Regions from separate parts of the Homo sapiens genome. Here region 1 is linked to region 2. Evidence: fine-mapped expression QTL. A gene starts in region 2. The other region holds a variant in brackets. All regions are shown on one strand. Distances are between the middles of the regions.

Region 1 (3,009 bases), 110 kb after region 2:
CTCTTCATCCTTCTGAGATAACTCTGCTCTTGTCTCAAAGGTTCCAGACCTCTGTCCCCATCCCAGCTCTCCCTGTGACCTCCAGCTCTCCACTTCCAACTGCCTACGGAGTGGCTCTACCTGAAAGTCTTCCAGCTACATCTAACTCAACATGATTCATATTCATTAAGTTACTTACTCCATTAAACAAATGGATTTCACTCCCCGACTCTGTGCCAGGTACTGTTTTAGGCATTAGAAATGAAGTTGTGAAAACTGACAAGAGATTCGTGTCTTCTTTGAGCTTATTTCTTGTGGGGCAGGTGATGTAGGAGCAAGCCATGTAGATACTTGTTGGAAGAATGTTCTGGGCCTACAGAACAGCAAAGCCTCAGGTATACTTGACAGGAAAAGCACCCGAGGCCAACATACCTGGAGCAGAGGGAGACAGCTGGTGAGAGCAGGGGAGACGGTCAGAGAGAGAGAGAGAGAGAGAGAGAGGCCCGGTTATACGAGAACTTATAGTCTGTAAGTTCTGTAAGAAGAGCATTGGCGGTTACTCTGAGATGAGGAGGCATGAGAAGGCTTGGAGCAAAGCGTGACAGGATGTCACTTACATTTTAATAAGGATTCTTTCTACAAGGCTCTTCCCATTCAGCCTCTTCTCTAACGGTATCCCCTAGTCCCATTCTTGAGATTAGAAAGCTCACCACCCTCAACTTCTATCCATTGCTTTCTTCCCTCATTTAGTCACTGGGTCCCTGGTGGTTTTACCTCTTTAGAATCTCTCAAATTGTTTTTTCTTTTTCCATCCCACAGACACTGCCTCAACTATGTAGGCCACATTGATCACTTTCTGCCTCCGCAGTTTTAGCATCCTCCTGATTAGCGTTCCTCATGCCCTCCCCAGTGCCATCAGAACTGACTTGTACCTCCTTGTTTTATAAATTTTGTTGAGTCGCCTTTGCTTCCAAGATCAAGTTCAAATTCCTCAGCATATCCACCCTATAAGGCCATTGACTTTCTTGTTTTTTTTTTTTTTTTTTTTTTTTTTTTTTGAGACAGAGTCCCGCTCTGTCACCCAGACTGGAATGTAGTGGTGCGGTCTTGGCTCACTGTAACCTCCGCTTCCCAGGTTCAAGCGATTCTCCTGCCTCAGCCTCCCGAATAGCTGGGACTACAGGCGCGCGTCACCATGCCTGGCCAATTTTTGTATTTTTAGTAGAAACAGGGTTTCGCCTTGTTGGCCAGGCTGGTCTCAAACTCCTGACCTCAAGTGATCCGCCTGCCTCGGCCTCCCAAAGTGCTGGGATTACAGGTGTGAGCCACTGCACCCAGCTGCCATTGACTTTCTGACCCTAAACTACCTCTCTGGTGTAATCTCATCCCATGGCCTAAAATGGCGCCCAATCATAAACTCTCGTCATAGGGAGTTCTTGGTTCCACCCTGACTCTGCTGTGCCCTCTTATCCTTCCTTGCCTTTGTGCCCACTAGTACTCTCTTCCCTTTTCTGTCTGGTGAGCATCTACTCTTAAAGACTTTACTTAAACACTACATGTTCTGTGAAGGCTTCAGAAAATCCCTTCTGTTCTAAAATGTATGAAAAATCTGACTGCTTCTCACCACCTCTGCTTCTTACACCGTGGCC[A/G]AAACTGCCATCATCTCTGTTGCAACAGCCTCCTGACTGGTTCTGCCTCCTTCCCCTGGTCTAGTTTAACACAGCATCCGGAATGATCTTTGAAAACATAAATCAGCTCATTACACTTTCTTGCTCAAAGCCCTTGAATAGCTTCCCATCAGCCTAGGACCTGACATGCACCCACAAAGCTCTACATGCTTGGGTTCCTAACTGCTTCCCTCACCTCATTTCCTGCCCCTGCCCACTCCCCACCCCCCCTCACACTTTTCTTCCTATTCTGGCACTTTACTCTTCCTGGAATAAACCAAGCTCACTCCTGCCCCAAGGCCTTTGCACTGAATGTTCCCTCAACCTGGAACTCTCTCATCCCCCCAGGCATCTGCAGATATTGTATCCTTGTTTCTTGCTTTCTTCTGCTCTGATGTCACTGTATCTAGAGGCCTTCCCTTACCACCCTGTGGAAAGTAGGCATACTTACCCCAGCACTCCCTATCCTACTTTCTCGGCTTTATTTTTCCCCGTAGACTTATCATCATCTAAAATACCGTATATTTTACTTATTTATATGCTTATTGTCTGGCTCACCTTGCTAGGACATGAGCTTCTAGAGAGAAAATAGACGTTTCGCTCTCTTCCATATTCTCAGCACCCAAGTGCTTTGCAAATAGTATGTGCTCAATACATATGTATTCAGTACCTAAGGGTTTTCCAGCTTTTCCTTCCCAATTATTCCCTGCTCCCACAGCAGTATACTCACACTTCTATTGTAGGACATTCTTCTCTTTTGGTTTCCATTTTGGTTTATACTGTTAAATTATGAGATGCTGTCAAATAGGACCTATCTTCTTTTAATCCTTGTATGTCTGGCACTTTATACAGTGCCTGGTACATAGGAAGTATTTGAGAAATGTTAAATAAACAAAATGAAATGAAGTATTGAATGAATGAATGAATGAATGAACGAGGATCTCTGTGTCATTTTGTAGCAAAGCACATGTTACCTCAAGTCTTGTGATAGCTGTGGCAGAGTCTGAACAGTGACTCCAGAAGTGTATCCCTTCTGGAGCTCTAGTTTGCATCATGCAGGCAGAGTCTGGGTCAGACGAGTGTTTAGCCCGTTAGTCATCGGATGGCTGCCAAGTCGCAAGCATTTTACAACAAAAATTATATAGAAAATGAGTGATAGGGTGCAAATTGCTGAGTGCAAAATAGAAAGTGTTAGGAGCAAAATCTATTAACAGCTAGATTAGAAATACAGTCCTCTAAAATCAGAATATTCTAGTACTTCTAAGTGAAGGGTATTTCCCAAGTTACTTGAATATTTAAATTTTTTTTTTCTCTCTACCCAAGGTTGAGTTCCACTGGGCTTCATTTAAGTGAGCCTCTGGTA
Region 2 (2,500 bases):
TGGTTGTCACAACAAGGAAGCGGGATGCTACTGGCATCTAGTGAGTAGAGGCCATGGATGATGCTAAATATCTTACAGTGCTTAGGAGACATAATAATGAATTATCCAGCCCAAAATGTTAATAATAGTGTAGAAGCTGAAAAACCCTGCACAATGCTGCAATGCCTCTCCAACACCATCTTATGTTATCCTTCTTTGCTCACTATGCTTCACTTACATTATTCTTTACTTTCCTCGAACCCCCCATACCCTTGTCTTGCTCAAGGCCTTTGTATTAGCTGGTTCCTTAATCTTTGGAGCTCAGTTCACTTCCTCAGACAGGTTTTCCCTGACCATCCTATGTTAGAGTAGTCTTCCTTACATTTCTTCACTGTTTATTTCTTTTCTTTTCTTTTTTTTTTTTTTGAGACAGGGTCTTGCTATGTTGCCCGGGCTGGCCTTGAATTCATGGGTTCAAGTGATCCTCCCACCTCAGCCTCCCGAGTAGCTGGAACTACATGTGCGTGCCACCAAGCATGGCTTGTATCTCTTATAGCAACTGCCTCTATCTGAAGTTATCAGATAAAATTATTGTTTGTCTCCACTAAAAAAGGATAAACATCTTGAGACGGGTATTAGTCTTGTTCACAACTGTTCAGGAACAGTGCCTGGTACAGGGTGGGAACCAACATTAATATTTATTGAATGATTGGCTGTGCGTGGTGGCTCACACCTGTAATCCCAGCACTTTGCGAGGCCGAGACGGGCGGCTGACTTCAGGCCAGGAGTTCGAGACCAGCCTGGCCAACATGATGAAACCCTGTCTCTACTAAAAATACAAAAATTAGCTGGGTGTGGTGGCACACGCCTGTAATCCCAGCTACTCGGGAGGCTGAGGCAGAAGAATCGCTTGAACCTGGGAGGAGGAGTTTGCAGTAAGCTGAGGTCTTACCACTGCACTCCAGCCTGGGCAACGGAGCAAGAACCTGTCACACACACAAAAAAAAGAATAAAGAAAAAATATTTATTGAATGAATAAATGAATATCAGGTACTGAGATTAAAATGGCAAGCAAAACCCCCGCCTTTATGAAGCTAGCAAGTTATGGAGGTAATCACATGATAAACAAATAATATATAATTAAGCAAACAATAGACCACTCAGGAGGTTTAGGGTCTACCAACCAACTCCTAATCCAGGGCAAATGAGCAAACTGTGTTAGGGACCTACAACTTGCAGGATCTGGATAGAGATGGCAATTAGCAGCATCAACTCTCACCTTCATGGCTGGGATATAACATTTCAAATTGGTCCTGGACGTGGGGATAAAGGGCGGCCTGTGATTCAGGCCTGAGGATGTGGAGGTGTCTTGGGCTGGGCTGCTTTCACGCCAGCAGAACTCCAGGGCCAACTCCAGGGCCTTCTCCAGGCGGCAGAGCGGACCCTAGGACCCCGGCCCGCGCTGCAGTGGGGAGGGTCAGCAACCTCCACCCACCCTCATCCTCCCCCATCCTCCCGGGTACTCACCGTGCCACTGGCCCTGCAGCTAGCTACCGTTGCTATAGCGCCGACAGCGTGGCGGGCGGCTGGCCGAGAGGAGCACGGGAGAAACATGGCAGGCTCCCGTAGCCTCCTGGGAAATGTAGTTCTCCTTGGACTCTAGCCTGTTTGCTCGCGGGGTAGCGGACTACGCTCTTCCAGCTGTCGGACCTGGGAAATTCTCCTGTGCTAAATCCCGTGGCGCTCGCGGGTGTCGCCGCGGTGCATCCTGGGAGTTGTAGTTTTTTCTACTCAGAGGGAGAATAGCTCCAGACGGGAGCAGGACGCTGAGAGAACTACATGCAGGAGGCGGGGTCCAGGGCGAGGGATCTACGCAGCTTGCGGTGGCGAAGGCGGCTTTAGTGGCAGCATGAAGCGCACCCCGACTGCCGAGGAACGAGAGCGCGAAGCTAAGGTATGTCGGGCTCCCGGGGCCTGGAGATCTTCGTGCGCTGTGAGCAAGGATCAGGGAACCGGAAGGGCTTGGTTTGATGGCGAGCGGATGCGCGGTGTTAAACTAAGGGATGACAGGGCCTTGTCAGCAAGGGACCTGGAGATATTAGAGGGGATGTTACAAATTCGTGCTCTTCAGGATGCAGGCCGAGTCTTGTTGGATCGGCTCAAAAATGAGAAGCAAGATACCCATTTCCTTGTCCTTCTTCTGCATCTATTCCTTGGTTAAATTTGTCGCCATCCCTGTGCCTCAGTTTACCGGATTCTCAGATGACTGTGATCATACCAGCTGTGCTTTCTCATAATGGTCTCTGAGGACTGAGATCGGCTTAGATGAAATATCTGTGCAGTCAGCTGTGTTTCTTTGGAACAATTGTCTCCGTGACCGGCTGATAACAGTTTGTGTCTTTTAGCGCTGTGGATATGAATCTTTAACTACATTGCTCCTCTCTACCTTTGATGTTCAGCTTCTGGTAGTTGCCATTCCATGGGATGACCATAATAATGGCAACAGAGATTTTAAAAAGCA

What was found.
Region 1: its variant is fine-mapped to the expression of RPGRIP1L in vagina (GTEx, PIP above 0.99).

Annotation. Positions count from the first base shown.
Region 1 is chr16:53,814,630-53,817,638 of GRCh38, forward strand. All of the region lies in intron 2 of FTO (FTO alpha-ketoglutarate dependent dioxygenase), which reads left to right. Among named protein-coding and RNA genes, the nearest start is that of FTO, 110 kb to the left of the region's middle. The variant A/G (reference allele first, on the strand shown) is at 1,629.
Region 2 is chr16:53,702,297-53,704,796 of GRCh38, forward strand. RPGRIP1L (RPGRIP1 like) reads right to left here and starts at 1,563. Exons shown (of 27, transcript NM_015272.5): 1 at 1,507-1,563. It overlaps FTO (FTO alpha-ketoglutarate dependent dioxygenase), which reads left to right and starts at 1,860. Exons shown (of 9, transcript NM_001080432.3): 1 at 1,860-1,933. The coding sequence starts at 1,889. RefSeq lists a silencer at 1,473-1,522 and enhancers at 1,558-2,058, 1,673-2,082.